Regions from separate parts of the Homo sapiens genome. Here all the other regions are linked to region 1. The links come from fine-mapping of genetic effects on gene expression. A gene starts in region 1. Each other region holds a variant in brackets. All regions are shown on one strand. Distances are between the middles of the regions.

The links. PIP is the estimated chance that this variant, and not a neighbour inherited with it, causes the effect.
Region 2: its variant is the best candidate, but not a certain one, in a credible set for the expression of CFAP46 in spleen (GTEx, PIP 0.51).
Region 3: its variant is the best candidate, but not a certain one, in a credible set for the expression of CFAP46 in monocytes after Pam3CSK4 (Quach 2016, PIP 0.66).

What each region holds. Positions count from the first base shown.
Region 1 is chr10:132,939,553-132,945,102 of GRCh38, reverse strand. It overlaps CFAP46 (cilia and flagella associated protein 46), which reads left to right and starts at 2,533. Exons shown (of 58, transcript NM_001200049.3): 1 at 2,533-2,667; 2 at 2,999-3,123; 3 at 3,381-3,512; 4 at 4,043-4,107. The coding sequence starts at 2,619. LINC01166 (long intergenic non-protein coding RNA 1166) reads left to right here. Exons shown (of 2, transcript NR_120627.1): 2 at 1-1,136. It overlaps LOC105378572 (a long non-coding RNA gene), which reads right to left and starts at 1,736. Exons shown (of 3, transcript XR_007062348.1): 1 at 528-1,736; 2 at 1-83. RefSeq lists enhancers at 2,053-2,636, 2,637-3,220.
Region 2 is chr10:133,107,812-133,113,361 of GRCh38, reverse strand. The region is part of intron 5 of ADGRA1 (adhesion G protein-coupled receptor A1); the gene reads right to left. Among named protein-coding and RNA genes, the nearest start is that of ADGRA1, 23 kb to the right of the region's middle. The variant C/TC (reference allele first, on the strand shown) is at 2,907.
Region 3 is chr10:132,907,825-132,913,374 of GRCh38, reverse strand. It overlaps CFAP46 (cilia and flagella associated protein 46), which reads left to right. Exons shown (of 58, transcript NM_001200049.3): 18 at 117-329; 19 at 555-720; 20 at 3,307-3,456; 21 at 4,131-4,238; 22 at 4,741-4,907. Among named protein-coding and RNA genes, the nearest start is that of CFAP46, 32 kb to the left of the region's middle. RefSeq lists enhancers at 1-540, 541-1,348. The variant T/C (reference allele first, on the strand shown) is at 2,297.

The DNA of each region.
Region 1 (5,550 bases):
TTAACTTCTGTTCTGCTCATTCTGCTCATGTATATATTCTGAGATGTTTTAAACAACAATTCACCCATCTTCCTGGCTTTCACCTGATGAAATTACAAATGTTCAGAATTCTCACCACCTTCTGGTTAAGCAAGTGTCATGGATTGAACTGTGTCCCCCTGAAACTCTTATGCTGGAGTCCTAGTCCCACGGCCTCAGAATGTGGCCTTATTTGGAGACAGGGTCTTCACAGAGGTGATCTATTTAACAGGAGGTCCCAGGGTGGGCCCTAAACCCCATGGCTGGTGTCCATATAAGATGGGCACATTTGGACACCGAGACACAGACAAGAAGACGACCACATACGGCCACGCGGGGTGCCCTCCAAGGAACCAACTCCGGCCGCACCTTGTTCTCGGCCTTCCCGCCTCCTTTCCCGCTGTTTAAGCCGCCCATGAGAGTGCCCCGTGATGGCAACGCCAGCGGGCGCATATACAGCAGGCCTCTGGGGTCCAGCCTGGGAGCCCAGACACAGACACCGTCTCTACCTGGCAAGATGGGGTGATGAAATGAGAAATGAATAGATCTGGTCTCTGCTCCCGAGACCCCGCACAGGGCTCCAAAAGCCCTCGAATTTCCTGGGTGATGGCAGCAGATTCTTCCATTCAAATGAGGTGAGGCTTGGTGGCTCCTGGAGGGGGTCCAGTCACCAGAGAGACCAGCCAGGATTAGCACCTGCAGCTCTCAACCCTGCACCCACCCTCCTCCAGGGATCATCCACCATCATCCTTCATGTCTGCGATGGAGCCTCCATAAGAATGCCTGGACTATGGGTCCCGAGCAGTTCCAGGTTGCTGAACACATCCACGGGCCAGGAGGGTGGTGCCCCCCACTCCACGGACACAGAAGCTCCTGGGCTGGGGACCCTTTCCGACCCTGCCCTGTGCCCCGGCCCACCTGGCTGCCCATCTGCGGCCTTTCTCATCTCCTTTTCCTGCGTTCTGTGATAATTTTGTGTTGCACTCTTGATATTTAAGGCTAATGTGTAACTAGAAAACTGAGTTTTAATATTTAATGCCCTTGGATTTGGGAAATCTCTTACTACATTATGTTTGGATATACTTTCTCTGAGGGGATAAATATTTTATCGAGGCTGTACCCATGTGTGGAGTGTCTTTACCAACAAAGGCCCATCTGAGAACTGTCTTTGGGAAGGAATATGGTCATTTAGCAGGGATCTGAGGCTGCCAACTTCAAGACGGGGTGGGGCTCTAGGAGCCTGAGAAACATACGACGTTCAGGTTTCAAAACTATGTCCAGGCAGCTTATTTGATCCCATGTAGGTATGGTGGCCTCTCCCGGGTGGAATTCCACTCTCCCAGGTGGGCCTCTCCCAGGCGGTCCTCTCTCAGGGGGTTCTCTCCCAGGTGGGCCTCTCCTGGGTGGAATTCCACTCTCCCAGGTGGGCCTCTCCCAGGCGGTCCTCTCTCAGGGGGTCCTCTCCCAGGTGGGCCTCTCCCGGGTGGAATTCCACTCTCCCAGGTGGGCCTCTCCCAGGCGGTCCTCTCTCAGGGGGTCCTCTCCCAGGTGGGCCTCTCCCGGGTGGAATTCCACTCTCCCACGTGGGACTCTCGTGGGTGGGCCTCTCCCAGGGGGTCCTCTCCCAGGTGGGCCTACCCCAGGTGGGCCTCCCCTAGAGCTCCCCTAGTGTGCCCACCCCGGGGTGAGTCCCGGGCCCTCCCCTCCCCAGGCCGACCCAAGTCCTTCAGTGGCTCCGGCTTCCCCGCGCGGGGGCTGCGCGCCCCGCCAAGCCTCCAATTCGGGTCGGTCGTAGGCGCCGTCCGGACCCCGGCCGGAAAGCAGCCCCGGCTGGGAGGTGGGGAGCCCCGGGGGGCAGGTGGCTGCGCTGCTACCCTCTCCGTGGGGGCCGGGGCTCTGCGTCTGCTCCTCCCGCCTCGGCCACCCCCTGCTGCCAGGTCTTAGCTCGTCCCCAGACCCGGCGGCCCCATCCACGCCCGCAGCCCGCATTTCCACTGCGCGACTTTCTGTGCCCGCTGCACTTCCAGCACCGTGGCAGGGGCAAATCACCGCCTGTTAAAGTAATGACGGAATGAATGAAAGAACGAAAGAATGAAGGAATGACTGACTGACTGACTGACTGACTGACTGAATGGATGAATGAATGAATGAATGAATGAATGAATGAATGAATGAATGAGCCGACGAGCGCAGGCGCGAAGGACGCAGTCGGAAGTTCCCGGGGAAGGTGGAGGGTGAGCCCGGGGTCAGGACCAGAACCCGGGCACACAGGAGCCCTGAGCGGGGAGAGGAGGCCCGCGCGGAGCCCCCGGCGTCCCCCCACGCCGCCTTCCCTCCCCTTTCTTCTTCCCGCCCCTCGCCGGGGGTCGCTGCCCTGGTGTCTCACTCCCGCGGAGCTGGCGGGGGGCAGGGCGGGGGCGCGGCGTTGTTCGCCTTCCCCGAAGTGTGGCCCCGCCGCCGACCCGTAGCCCCGCGTCCGCGTCCCTTTCGGTCTCCAGGCAACCGTGGCCGGGTCCTCGCGGCTGGAGAACCCAACCGACAGTGGGCGGCAGGACGCACCGCGGACCCCGGAGAGAGCGGACGAGCAGGGCGCCGGCGCCATGGACCTGGTCATCACGCAGGAGCTGGCCCGCGCCGAGAGCCAGCAAGGTGACCCCAGGCCCGCCACGACCCCCGCCCCGGGGAGGCCCCGGGACCCGCCACGACCCCCGCCCCGGGGAGGCCCCGGACCCTCTCATCCCAGCCCGCCCAATGGGTGATCCCTCGAGGGCCACAGCCGGAGCCCCCACCTCCCGATCGTCTGACCAGAGCAAACGTACAGGAAGGCGCCCACACCGCTGCTCCCTGGCGGCGACAGGTTCTGACGGTGGCTGTGGCCCGGGGGCCCAAGGCGGCTGCCTGGGGCCTTCGGGATGGCGTTGCCCGGCTCACTTCTCCCAGCCCAGTGACCAAACCTTCCTCAACCACCCGTTTGGGACAGATGCTGCGTCCTTGAAGAAGGCCTACGAGTTGATCAAATCGGCCAACCTAGGGAAATCGGAGTTTGACCCCTCAGAGAGCTTCAGCCCAGACCTGTTTGTTCTGTGTGCAGAGCAGGCCCTGAAGGTAACTAGTTCCCGGGATCCTCGGTCAGGGCAGCTTTGACAGGGAGAGGGAGGGCCTCTGGGTGTGCAGCGGATGCAGAGTGGGGCTGGGGAGAGGCAGCTCCTGGCCGGGCAGTCAAGGGGCCAGGATGGAGGATGGGGCTGGAAACAGGCTCCACCTGTGCTGGGGGCCTGTTCTGAAAGCGGGCCCGTGGTGCTTCTGGGCAGGGAGGCCACCCCTCCGGGTCTGTGATCTTCTGTGGTGGTGTTCTCTTGCAGATGAGGCAGCCAGAGGTGAGCGAGGACTGCATCCAAATGTACTTCAAGGTGAAGGCGCCCATCACCCAGTTTCTGGGCCGAGCGCACCTGTGCAGGGCCCAGATGTGTGCCCCGAAGTCGGCAGAAAACCTGGTGAGAGGCGTCCTGTGCCCCTTATCCCCAACAGTTCAATTTTCACCCCATCTCCAGAGCAATGCCAGGCTAGACCAGGCTTAAAATCGTTCTTAGGGTAGTAGAGTGAAGGAATTCCTTTCCAGAGTGACACGAAACTTGCACCATTTCCTGTCCATGCTTTTTGCTCAAGTGGTGATATCTGACACACAGGACCCCTGGACCTTTGCCTCGTAGCAGCGTGGTCTCTGTGGCATCTGCGCCTGCAGCTGCCCCGAGTGGGCACAGGGGAGCTGGGGTGGGGCGGGCGTGCTGGAGCACAGGCACTGCGGTTTCTGCTGCCTCGCTGTGTCTGCGGGACGGGAACCCGGGTGCAGGTCCAGGACCTCGCCACGACACTCAGGCTGTGTCTGCCACACCGTCACCTGTGGATACACAGGTGACACACAGGGGGTACCAGGCCAACCGTGAGGGAGCCGTGGCATCCGCAGATGGGGCAGTGAGCAGGGGTCAGTATTTCGGTCTAATTGTGCTTCTTTATGTTGCCTTAGGAGGAATTTGAAAATTGCGTGACTGAGTACATGAAGGCCATAAACTTTGCCAAAGGAGAACCGAGGTAGGCAAAATTGAAGTGGCCGTTTCTCACTGACTGGGTGAAAGACTTCAGAGCCAGAACTTATCAAGTGGGTGTATTTATTTGAACTGTGGGGTTTCCCCTCGTTTGTGGTCTGTGATTTTCATGCACGTGTGATCACTCCCTCATCTCGTCAGCGTGTGGACAGGCCACATTCATGCCGAATTCCGAGTAACAGCCTCTTTTGCACTCGGCGGTTTTCGTGATTTTAGATGGCTGTGAAGAGTCTGTTTTCTGCCGGGCGTGGTGGCACATGCCTGTAATCCCAACTGCTGGGGAGGCTGAGGCAGGAGAATCACTTGAACTCGGGAGGCGGAGGTTGCAGTGAGCCCAGATCACGCCACTGCACTCCAGCCTGGATGACAGCGAGACTCTGTATCAATAAAAAAAAAAAAAGAGTCTGTTTTCTCCAGGGCCTCCCCGGGCGCACCCCCAGGGCGCCTTCTCCTTCCCCACGGTTCCTTCTTCGGCCCAGCGTGCCTTTGCTGCTCCCTAGCGGACAACTTGGCCAAGGCCGCTGTCCCTGCGGAGGCGACTCCAGCACTTTCTACAAAATCAGTGCTTTCTGCACAAAAACAAATATCATGCTTCAAACTGTTAAGCTTGCACAAAACTGATTCATATCCTATTCAAATCAGTTTTGTGCAAGCTTGACAGTTTCAAGCATATTTGCTTGAACATATATCACATATTCAAATAGGATACAATGTTTGGAGGATATTTAAATAGAAGCTGTGGGTTCCCTGGTCTGTTCTACCCACATCGGCCTGCTTGTCTGCTGGTGGCCTTCTCTGGTCACACCCTGTTGCAAGTGCTGGGGATGTAGGGCCCAGCCCCACAGATCCTCTCTGCATGGGGACAGGGACGGGGAGGCCCCACCTCAAGCCACAGATTCTAAAGACAAGGGGTATTTCCAAGGGTGCTGTGACGCGGGAGTGGTGGGTACCATGGGAAGGAGGCTGCTCTGCTCCAGGGCCCTCAGGGGCACTGTGGACGGGTCAGGGGGTGACAGAGCCTTGCCAGAGGTCAGGACCATCTTTGGGAAGGGTCCAGGTTGTGTGGAGAGAGAGGGCAGCGCTGGCTTGTCCAGGGCAGTGTCAGTGGGACAGGAGACTGTGAGCCCAACCACGGGCATGTGGAGGCCACAGTGGGAATTTGGGGAGAGCCACTTACAGGGAGGAGACGGGTTCCTTTCGAGACGCAGCACTCAGGGAGACGCAGCACTCAGGGAGACGCAGCAGGCCGCTGGAGTCCCATGATGACCCCTCTGACTCAAGCAGGCGTGACCGTCTGGTCAGGACACCCCGCACCTCCGCTCCTCTCCTGAAAACCTGGAAACAGGATGAGTCCTGTCCTAGGGTCACGTGGTGGCTCTGAGTAAACTCAGAGGAGTGGGCTTGCCACAGCCACCCTGGTGTCCTCCTC
Region 2 (5,550 bases), 170 kb before region 1:
GGCGGGAGCAGGCATCCTCGGCAAGCCGGGCCGTGACACGGAATCTAAGTGCCGCGGTGCCATTGGACTTCCAAACCGAAACACGGCCCACAGACCCCAAATAACTGACACAGCTTACAGACCTCAAATAACTGACGCGGCCCGCAGACCTCAAATAACCGACGCGGCTTACAGACCTCAAATAACCGACGCGGCTTACAGACCTCAAATAACCGACGTGGCCCACAGACCTCAAATAACCGACACAGCTTACAGACCCCAAATAACCGAACCGACACGGCCCGCAGACCCCAAATAACTGACACAGCTTATAGACCCCAAATAACTGACGCGGCCCGCAGACCCCAAATAACTGACACAGCTTATAGACCCCAAATAACTGACGCGGCCCGCAGACCCCAAATAACCGACACAGCCCGCAGACCTCAAATAACCGACACAGCTTACAGACCCCAAATAACCGAACTGACGCGGCCCGCAGACCCCAAATAACCGACGTGGCCCGCAGACCTCCAATAACCAACACAGCTTACAGACCCCAAATAACCGAACCAACACGGCCCGCAGACCCCAAATAACCGACATAGCTTACAGACCCCAAATAACCGACGCGGCCCGCAGACCTCAAATAACCGACGCGGCCCGCAGACCCCAAATAACTGACGTGGCCCGTAGACCCCAAATAACCGACATGGCCCACAGACCCCAAATAACGGACGCGGCCCGTAGACCCCAAATAACCGACGTAGCCCGTAGACTCCAAATAACCGACACGGCCCGCAGACCTCAAATAACCGATGCGGCCCACAGACCTCAAATAACCGACGCGGCCTGCAGACCCCAAATAACCAACACTGCTTACAGACCCCAAATAACCGACGCGGCCCGCAGACCCCAAATAACTGACGTGGCCCGTAGACCCCAAATAACCGACATGGCCCGCAGACCCCAAATAACGGACGCGGCCCGTAGACCCCAAATAACCGACACGGCCCGCAGACCCCAAATAACTGACGCAGCCTGCAGACCCCAGATAACCGATGCGGCCCGCAGACCCCAAATAACTGACACAGCTTGGTGCACTTGATCAGAAAGGGTGGCCGTACTGCAAAATTAAGATGTCATTATTCATGGCTAAATGGGGAATCAGCCCCCGAGCACCTATGAAATCACAAAAGGTCTGCTTGTTTCTGGAGTGTCTTCCTTTTGGCTGGCAAAGGGAGCAGAAAATGTGGAAAGTTCTGTCTACTTAGAGGCCCTTCCTCAAAGTGGGCTGGCCAGCAGGATTAGGAGGGAGATGCCCATGGCAGGCAGGTGGTCTGGAGGCATTAGGAGGGAGGTGTCTGTGGTGGGCAGGTGGTCTGGAGGCATTAGGAGGGAGGTGCCTGTGGTGGGCAGGTGGTCTGGAGGGATTAGGAGGGAGGTGCTCACGGCGGGCAGGTGGTCTGGAGGCATTAGGAGGGAGGTGTCTGTGGTGGGCAGGTGGTCTGGAGGGATTAGGAGGGAGGTGCCCGTGGTGGGCAGGTGGTCTGGTGGGATTAGGAGGGAGGTGCCTGTGGTGGGCAGGTGGTCTGGAGGGATTAGGAGGGAGGTGTCTGTGGCGGGCAGGTTGTCTGGTGGGATTAGGAGGGAGGTGCCCGTGGCGGGCAGGTGGTCTGGTGGGATTAGGAGGGATGGTTCCCGGGGGGGCAGGTTGTCTGGTGGGATTAGGAGGGAGGTGTCCGTGGTGGGCAGGTTGTCTGGTGGGATTAGGAGGGAGGTGTCCGTGGTGGGCAGGTTGTCTGGTGGGATTAGGAGGGAGGTGTCCGTGGTGGGCAGGTTGTCTGGTGGGATTAGGAGGGAGGTGTCTGTGGTGGGCAGGTTGTCTGGTGGGATTAGGAGGGAGGTGTCCGTGGTGGGCAGGTTGTCTGGTGGGATTAGGAGGGAGGTGTCCGTGGTGGGCAGGTTGTCTGGTGGGATTAGGAGGGAGGTGTCCGTGGTGGGCAGGTTGTCTGGTGGGATTAGGAGGGAGGTGCCTGTGGTGGGCAGGTGGTCTGGTGGGATTAGGAGGGATGGTTCCCGGGGGGGCAGGTTGTCTGGTGGGATTAGGAGGGAGGTGCCTGTGGTGGGCAGGTTGTCTGGTGGGATTAGGAGGGAGGTGCCTGTGGTGGGCAGGTTGTCTGGAGGGATTAGGAGGGAGGTGCTCACGGCGGGCAGGTGGTCTGGTGGGATTAGGAGAGGAGGCACCCCTGGCGGGCAGGTGGCCAGCAGGATTAGGAGGGGAGCTGCCCATGGCAGGCAGGTGGCTTGGCAGGATTAGGAGGGCAGGTGTCCCTGGTGGGCAGGTGGCCCAGCCTACCCAGAACCTCCCCAGTTCAGCCACATTTCCACTTAACAGATTCAGAAACAACCCTTCAGTGGGCTGTGCTCACATTGGAGCAGGTGCTTGGGGACCTGGGATCACTGAATTATCCAGCAGCACCTGTGTCCAGGGCCCCATGCAGACATCACTCTGCGGCAAAGGGATTGGGCAGGAAACTAAAGACAAGGAAGGGGAAGAGGCTGAATAGAGGTCAAAACAGAATTCCGGAAAATAAATCTGGATTGTGAGATATGGGTATAGAGGAAGCAGGCTAATTGTTCAGACATGGGCATCAGACCACTGGCTTTTGTTTTGTGTACAAAGGGTCAGCTCAGGGTGCATAATATTTGCCCTTATTCTTTTTCTTCCAGTATTTCTTTATATTTCTTACCGACTCTCTCTCTCTCAGGCTTTCTTTCTTCTCACTCATATAGTTAGAAATGGCAGATCCAAGGAGCTTCTCTCTGAACATTCGACCCTGTGCAGCTCAGTGTTGCTCTGCAGAAGGGCCAGCTCTGGGGCGTGGCAGGTGCCTGGGTCAGTGGCTTTCAGCACATTCCCCACG[C/TC]ACTGCCTGATAAGGCTGCTCTGTGTGCAGGGACGCAGGATGTGGCACTACAGCAGCCTGGGCTGTTTGCATGAACCTTATGACTGACGGCAGCACCTGCCTTCCCGCCAGAGTGTGAGGCTCCGTAGCTGTGGCCAGCGGAGCTGGCAGAGCACACAGGAGTGACCTGTCCCAGCAAGAATGCGGAGCTTGAGCCTGAGCGGCCTCCTGGGCAGAAGTGCGGGGCACACTTTGCTGCATTTTGCTGCTGGAGGAAGGAGCAGGTTCCGTGTGGATCCTCCCCACCTGCCGTCTCCCAGGACAGGAGAACTTTGGAGACGGCACCTGGAGTCTTGGACCCTGCTGGATGTCTTTTCCCTCGTTGGCCCTGTGGTGTATCCTTCTGTGGAGACAAACCACACCCAGGAACGCCGCCGCTGCTGAGTCCTGAGTGTATCTTCCAGCCCCTCCCTGAGTGTATCTTTCTGTGGAGACAAACCACACCCAGGAATGCCACCACTGCTGAGTCCCGAGTCCTTCCAGCCCCGCCCTGAGTGTGCAGAGGCCGTGGGGCCTGACACTGCATGACGGGCAGTGTGCTGCTCACCCAAGCCTCAGAACAAAGTATGAAACTGATTGCTTTCCATCGACACATCCAGCCCAGCTGAGCCTGGAGGCCGATTTCACACATATTTACTACATCCCTGCCGTTTGTCTCTTTCTGGTTTCAACATTTAATCAGGAGGGGCTGGATGCCAAGCCTGGAGAATATGAACCAGGAGGGACCTTCCCGTCATTGTCATCGAGGGGAGGAGAGGTCAGGGGACAGTTGCTCTGCAATAGGAGGTGGGCACCGGGCAGAAGGTCGGGGTCTCACTTAAGAGGAAGCTGAGGTGCAGGGAGGAGGCTGGAATGGAGACGGGAGGTAACCATCCCACTGGAGGGACCGACCCTCAGTGCTCAAAGGGCAGGTGAGGCCAGGAAGGGGCAGACAGGAAGGCTCTGAGCCACAGCTGAGCAGCAATGGGGGGTCTGGGGAGTGGTCGTGGGGGCAAGCAGTCAGGCTTCCAGCTGGGGAGAAAAAGTATCCAGGTGGTGTGGAGGTGGCAGAGCAGGAGGCTGAGAAAGGGACCTGGAGGCCCGCTGGGGTCAGGGCAGTCCACAGAGCAGGAAAGATGAGGTCCAGGGAGCGGGGGCTGGGAGAGGAGGAGGGACAGGAAAGGTGGGGAAGACTCCTGGGCCTGGAGGTGTGGCCTGATCTGGGAAAGGGGGTAGAGAGTTTGGCAAAATGTCTAGCACCCAGACACGAATGCTGGGAGAGCAGTGCTGCTGCTGAGCTGCAAAGACATTGTGGGGGTGGAGCTGGTTCCATGGAGGATATGAGGGGCAGGGGTGGGGCCGGGGCCATGGAGGACATGAGGGGAGGGGTGGAGCTGGGGCCAAGTGGAGCTGGTTCCTTTGTGGGACTGATGGACGGGTGGAGCTGGGGCTAAGTGGAGCTGGGACCGTGGAGGACATGAGGGGACGGGTGGAGCTGGGGCCGAGTGGAGCTGGGACCATGGAGGACATGAGGGGAGGGGTGGAGCTGGGGCCAAGTGGAGCTGGGACCATGGAGGACATGAGGGGAGGGGTGGAGCTGGGGCCGAGTGGAGCTGGGACCATGGAGGATGTGAGGGGAGGGGTGGAGCTGGGGCCACATGCACCCAGTATTGAGCTGTCTTGGGATATCTGAGGGAGGCATCAGGAGGCTGCGGCAAATGTGTGTAGTGGTCAGGACTGGTGGGCAGACTGCAAATGGTGTTTTGTGGACTGGCAACAGAGTCTTGCAACAGAGTCTAGTGTCTAGAATCTTGAGAGTATTGGGAGGTGACAGTGGCCACCATGTTGGTCAAAGGTGAGGGTGCCTGAATCCAAGGAGGCACCACTGTGAGGGGTTGGGTGGCTGAGCCGGTGCCTCTGTGGGCCTGGGGGGTCCTGTGTCCAACACCTCTGTCTCCTCCCTGCCAATCCTCTTCCTCCTTCCCTTCTGGTGTCCCTCCCTGCTTCCTTCTCCACGGAGTCACCCTAGCCCCATTTAGCAGTGCCAAGAGTCCATGGACTCCTCGGTTGAGGCTGCACCTGTCCTTCTCCTAAACTCTCCCCTACAAGGCTGAGGGTGACACTTCTGTTGGCCAAAGGCTCACGCCAGGTTCTGTGTGGTTTCTCACCCACAGGAGGCCCCGAGGCAGAGCTCTGGGGCCAGGGACCAGATTCACACACAACCTACAACCATGCCTGCACTGAAGACACCAGCAGGGCAGCAGGTCCTGCACACTCCCAGGTGTGCTCGGGGAGGTCTGTGTGATGCCTGGTCCAGGCCTAACCTTGAGGCACTCCCTGGCCCCTCGTGCCCACATCCACTCCACTCCTCACATGTGGAGAAAGGGAAGAAGGCTGGGCTGGCCAGGGCAGGCCACACAGCAGGATGTGCAGGGTCACCCACTCCCTCACACCCCTCTGCTGTACCCAAATCACAGAAAAGAAATGAAAAAATGTTTTTCATCATTGTAATGAAGATCTCCTTGCAGAGACAAGCCACCCAAAACCACACTGCATTGATCAAGTGGGGACTCCCTTCATTCAGCTTGACACTAAAAGTTGCAGCACAATTTTAGACAGGGTGGTT
Region 3 (5,550 bases), 32 kb after region 1:
GCCCCTCCCACTTCTTGCCCTGCAGCCTGGTTCCTAACAGGCCCCGCAGCCTTCCTGGTGCCTGGCCCCGGGGCTGGGGACCCTGCATTAAGGGCTTGGTGGTGCTCGTTTTGCAGAACCTGGATCGAGAGTCTGTCCCGGTGTGCCATGAATAACTGGCTGCGCTCCGCAGAGATCGGACAGGAGATCCAGGAGGCGTGGATTGTGCAGAACGCCGTGGTCTACGTCCTGAACCACAACCACCACCTGATCCTGGCCGGGCGGCAGAAGGAGCTGGTGGACGCCCTGTACCACCTCCTGAGCATCGTTAAGGCCACAGGCCACAGTGGGTGCGTGTGGGCTGTGCTGCGTTCACGCAGGGAGGGGCTTCTTCCCTTGGGAGACCCCAGAGCAAAGGCAGGCAGCTGCACTCCATGGCCCTCTGTGTCCCAGCAGAGGAGGGTCGTGGGCACCCGTGCATCTCAGGCCTCTTACCGTGACCTGAGGACTCAGCACATGGGATCGGGGCGAGGCCTGCGGGGGCCAAGGTTCCCTCTGACAAGCATGTCTCCCAGGGACCCCGTGATGCTGGTGACGCTCTGCAACACCTTGGCGCGAGGCCTGATCATCAGCTGGATTCCAGTCCAGGCTGCCGAGAAGTCCAGGAAATTCATGCGACCAAACGCGTTTCACAGCCCACTGGACGCAGGAGCCACTTCCGAGATCAAAACAGCGGTGGAGGTACCACCTCCATGATGCCGAGAGAGAGAGAGAGAGAGAGAGAGAGAGAGGAGAGAGGAGAGAGAGAGAGGAGAGGAGAGGTGAAAGAGGAGAGAGGTGAAGAGAGAGAGAGAGGAGAGGAGAGAGGTGAAGAGAGAGAGAGGAGAGGAGAGAGAGGTGAAAGAGGAGAGAGAGATGTGAAGAGAGAGAGAGGTGAAGAGAGAGAGAGAGGAGAGGAGAGAGGGAGGTGAGAGAGAGAGATGAGCAGAGAGAGGAGAGGAGAGAGAGGCGAGAGAAGCAGAGAGAAGAGAGGAGAAAGAGAGGAGAAGAGACAGGAGAGAGAGAAGAAGAGAGGAGAAGAGACAGGAGAAAGAGAGGAGAGAGAGAGGAGGAGAGAGGAGAAGAGAGAGGAGAGGGAAGAGAGAGAGAGGAAAGAGGACAGGAGAGAGGAGAAGAGAGAGGAGAGGGAAGAGAGAGAGAGGAAAGAGGACAGGAGAGAGGAGGAGAGAGAAGAGAGAGAGGAGAGAGAGAGAGATGTGGGGGTGGGGGGGTGGGGGTGGAGGGAGAGAGCAGGGAGGCAGCTGACCTGAGACAGAGCCCTGCAGACCTGTAGCTGGAGGCTGGGGCTGAGCTTCTGAAGGCTCCTGGAAAGGCCCTGGGAGAGCAAACTGCCTTCAGTGGAGGCGACAGACGTGAGAACAATCTAGGAAGTAAAACGTCAGGGGCTCCAGTTACTGGGAAATAAGGCCAGGGCTGGAGAGAGGAAAACAAGACCCGTGGGTGGGTGTGAGGCCTCCCCTCAGGGCGGGCTCCAGGCCTAGAGGAGAGTGGAAATAGAACCAGAAACGGCGGATTGGAACGGCGAGAAACAGGGACCACACCACCCACACATGCAGCCGTCCCAGTAAAATGCAGCAGACCCAGTGTGTGGGACGATCCTGGTGGCCCAGGCGGATCATTTATCCCATGGAATGTGGATTTTGTTGTAATCCAAAAGGAAGGGAAAAGAAATAGTGTTCTCGTTGACAGATGCTGCAGAAGTGTTTGATGAGCCATTGCCCATTTCTAACTCAGAAGAGCCTCAAAGAACCCGAGAGAAAGCCGGTTTCCTAATGAGTCAAGGGAGTCTGTGGGGAACCTCCTGGAGCCTGTGTGTGGAGCACCCGCGGTGGGGCGGGGGCAGGGAGGCCTTGAGTGTCTCCGCAGGGGCACGGGGCGGGGGAGCTGTCCCCACCCTTGCGGAAGACTTTGTGCTAAAGCTCATCCTGCATGACCCTTTCTGGGCCATGGATAAAACCGCGGGCTGGAGAGTCTTGAGCCTGCGGCCCGGCACTCACAACGCTCACAGTCAGCTGCGCCAGGCCAGAGCCAGAGAGGGCCCTAGTGCTCCCAGCTCCCAGTGGGGACGGCTGGCCCTGGGCAGTCAGTGTGGGCCGGCCAGGAACACCGGCTGTGGCATCAGGTGCAGGTCGTTCTTCCGAGAAGGGACAAGGGGCCGGCTCCGGGGACCTACAGGGATCAGGCTGGAGGCTGCGGAGGGGAGGGCGCCGTGGGCGGCTCAGGCAGCTGTGGGTGCAGCTGAGCCTGCTGTGGGCCC[T/C]GGGAGGCAGCTGGGGGGTGCAGAGGAGCTTCCCTCTTAGATGTGATGATGGCTGGATCCAGATGCTGAGAGGAAATGCCAGCACCGACTTGGCAGCCCGGGAACACGGAGTGAATGGCGGAGAGTGTGAGGAAGCCGGCTTGGGCGGTGCCTGGACTGGGCATGTGCACAACCGCACGGGGAGTCAGGTGGTGAACAGGGGAGTGAGTGCTCCCCAAACACATTCCGATGGGATGGCTGTGTGGAACTTGACAAATGTTTGGAAGTTTATCCAGAAGGAAGGATGGAGGGGAGGAAAGGGAAGGACGCTGCCCAGTAGGTGTCTGTGCTACCAAGACGTTTTGCAAGGAGCAGGTGTTCACAAGGCAGCGAGAGATGGGACATCCCTGGGTTAGCAAGAGGTCACTCCCGGTGGCCAGTGCTTCCTGCACCGGGCGAGGCTCTGAACAAGGACTCACCGATCCTCACGACGACCCATAGACTGGGTTTCATTTCTACATAGAGATGAGGAAACTGAGGCGCACAGCATGAAGAAACTCACCTGGTCACACGGCCAGCAAGACAGGGAGCTGGGGCGCAGCCCAGGGGCTCAGGGCAGCAGCCCACATGCCCGTCACTGCAGGCAAAGCACGTGGCAGATTTCACGCCCCCACTTTCGGGGCTCCGTCCTTGCTGCCCCACCCCCAACCGATACCAGCTGCAGTGGGGGAGGGGTGCTGGCTCAGCTGCTCCTTCCTGCGGGGTCCCAGGCCCATGCCGTGGGGACAGCTCAGGAGTGAGGGCCGGGGCGCACTGGAGGCCAGGTGGCAGCTGCGTCCTCGGCGTCTGGGGGTGGGGCTTCATCTGCTGGGTTTGTGGTGCAGCCGCTGGTGGGCCTGAGGTCTCGTGTTTAAGGCCCTTCACGGGCTGGATCAGGAGCGGGCTCCATCCATCTTTTAATGGTTCGGATCTTGGCTCAAGGTCCCCTGTTTAGAATTCAGGTTTCGTGACCGAGAACACGTCTGTCCTAGGTCTGCGAGTTTGCCCTGAACCTGACCAATGGGAGTGCGCCCGAGGAGACGGTGCCCACCGGCACCCGGCAGCAGCTTATCGCCACCTGGGTCAAGGCCAAGCAGCTGCTGCAGCAGCAGATTGGGCCACGGCTGGGCACCGAGGAGCAGGTGGGCGCCCCTGCCCACATCTGGGCTCTGACTGAGGCCCTGTGGACATAGAGATCTGAGACAGCCGGGGGTGGTGGGGCCCCCGGGACCACTTAGCTCCAGATGGAGCCATCACGGATGGCCTGGGCACTCCCTTTTCCCACTGAGCTCACCGCCGCTGGCTGCCCTTGAGTGTGGCACGGGGCCTCCTCTGCCCACCCGTCCACGGGGTCTGTGAGCTGCTGGGCCTGTGGGGGTGCTGCGCTCTCCCAAGGAGGAGTGGGCCCAGGGCCGGCCCCATGAGCTCCTGGAAAGCCAGATGGAGGAGGGGCCTTGGAGCCTGGCCAGGAGCCAGGCCCTAGTGGGGCCCAGGGAGGCGGGGAGGGTCCAGGTGTTGACCTGCCTGCCCCAGCAGCCACCATGTCAGGCCCACTGGTCCTTCCCTCCTCGGGGGTCACCCAGCCTTCAGACAAGGCTGCCTCACACATGGGGGCCGCACGGACTTGGGGCTCCTCGTTGTATGAGAAGATGACCTGCAGGTCAACAGTTACAAAAACAGCCTAAGGTATAAACGCTCCCAATTTTGTGGTCTGATTATTGCCATAAAACTAATACCTTGCAGTGTTAAATTCACGCATATTCCAGACTCCCCCCGCACGCTTGGGCTGATACACTCAGGGCATCCTCCCCACCAGGGCACCAATGAGGATGTCAGCTCGGTGACCAGAGTCCTCGTTGCCTTGGAAATGTACTCATGCAACGGGCTGGGCCTCATGGACTTCACTGTCCCCTCCCTGGCCCAGGTAGGTGTCCCCAGGGGTCCCGGGAGGCCAGGGGCCAAGAGGCGAGGACGCCGAGGCTCTTGCCCTAGGTGGCTGGAACTCGAGCCCCATCGTGCATGCTCACCCCCACTCTGCCCCGCTCTCCCCCACCTCCCAACGGAGCTGCGCCCCCTCGACGCACTTCCTTCAGCTCCATGCTCAGAGCATCCCTGTCTCCTGGTGCGAGGCAAACGCTGTTTGAGCGGACCCTCCATTCCCACCCAACCCTGAGCCGCTCAGGGGCAGCCAAGGGCTGCACACGCCAGTCCCGTGTCCAGGACACCCTGTGGGGTGTGGGAGCTACAAGGACATCAGGGGTCCTCACAGGCACGGACGTGGCAGCTCAGCTTTTGTGGCACGGTGGCCCTTCACAGGCCACGCCTCTGCTTAGGATCACATGCGCTGCGTGGTCCGTGGGGGCTGCAGGCCGTGGGAAGTTCGTTGTTGCTAACACGGTGCCCCTTCTCTTGCCACCCACCGGAAGTTGGTGAAAATGGCTTCCGAGTGCAACTGGTCGGACCCCCTGGTGGAGCTGCAGACCCTGACGCGGCTGACCCACTTCGCCCATGCAGCGCGTGACCATGAGACCACCATGGCCTGTGCTCACAGGGCTCTGGAGATGGGCATCAAGTACCTGAAGAAATTTGGGCCGTAAGTAACCCTCATGACTGGACAAATTCCCTCAAAACGGGCAGGGAGCGCAGGCCTGGGCCTCAATCACAGATCAGGGAGCAGGTGAGCGCCCCACCAGTTCCCCAAAACGGGCAGGGAGCGCGGGCCTGGGCCGCGATCACAGATCAGGGCGCGTGTGAGCGCCCCACCAGGTCCCCAAAACGGGCAGGGAGCGCGGGCCTGGGCGGCGATCACAGATCAGGGAGCAGGTGAGCACTCCACCAGGTCTCCAGGCCCAGTCCAGAAAGCTTCCCACAGGCCTCAGCCATGTGCACAGGCAGCCTCCGTCCTGCCGGCCCCGTGCCCTCATGGACAAGTCAGCAGTGGCCCCGTGGAAAGCTGGTCAGGAAGGATTCTGAAGTCACGTGGGCCTCAGCAGGAGGGGTGTGTGGCCTGCTGGCCGCGTGTGCATTGTAGGCACAGAAAGGGGGGGCCTCAGCCTTCAGAGGCTGGGACAAAGGGCCACAGACCGGGGGGCTCCCACCCCAGATGGTTCCTGCTCACAGTTCCGGAGGCTGGAAGTGCCATCGAGGTGTGGCAGATTCGGCGTCTGCGAGGGCCCCTTCCTGTCTCACAGACGGCGCCTCCCGCTGTGTCCTCACATGCGGGAAGGGGCAGGGCT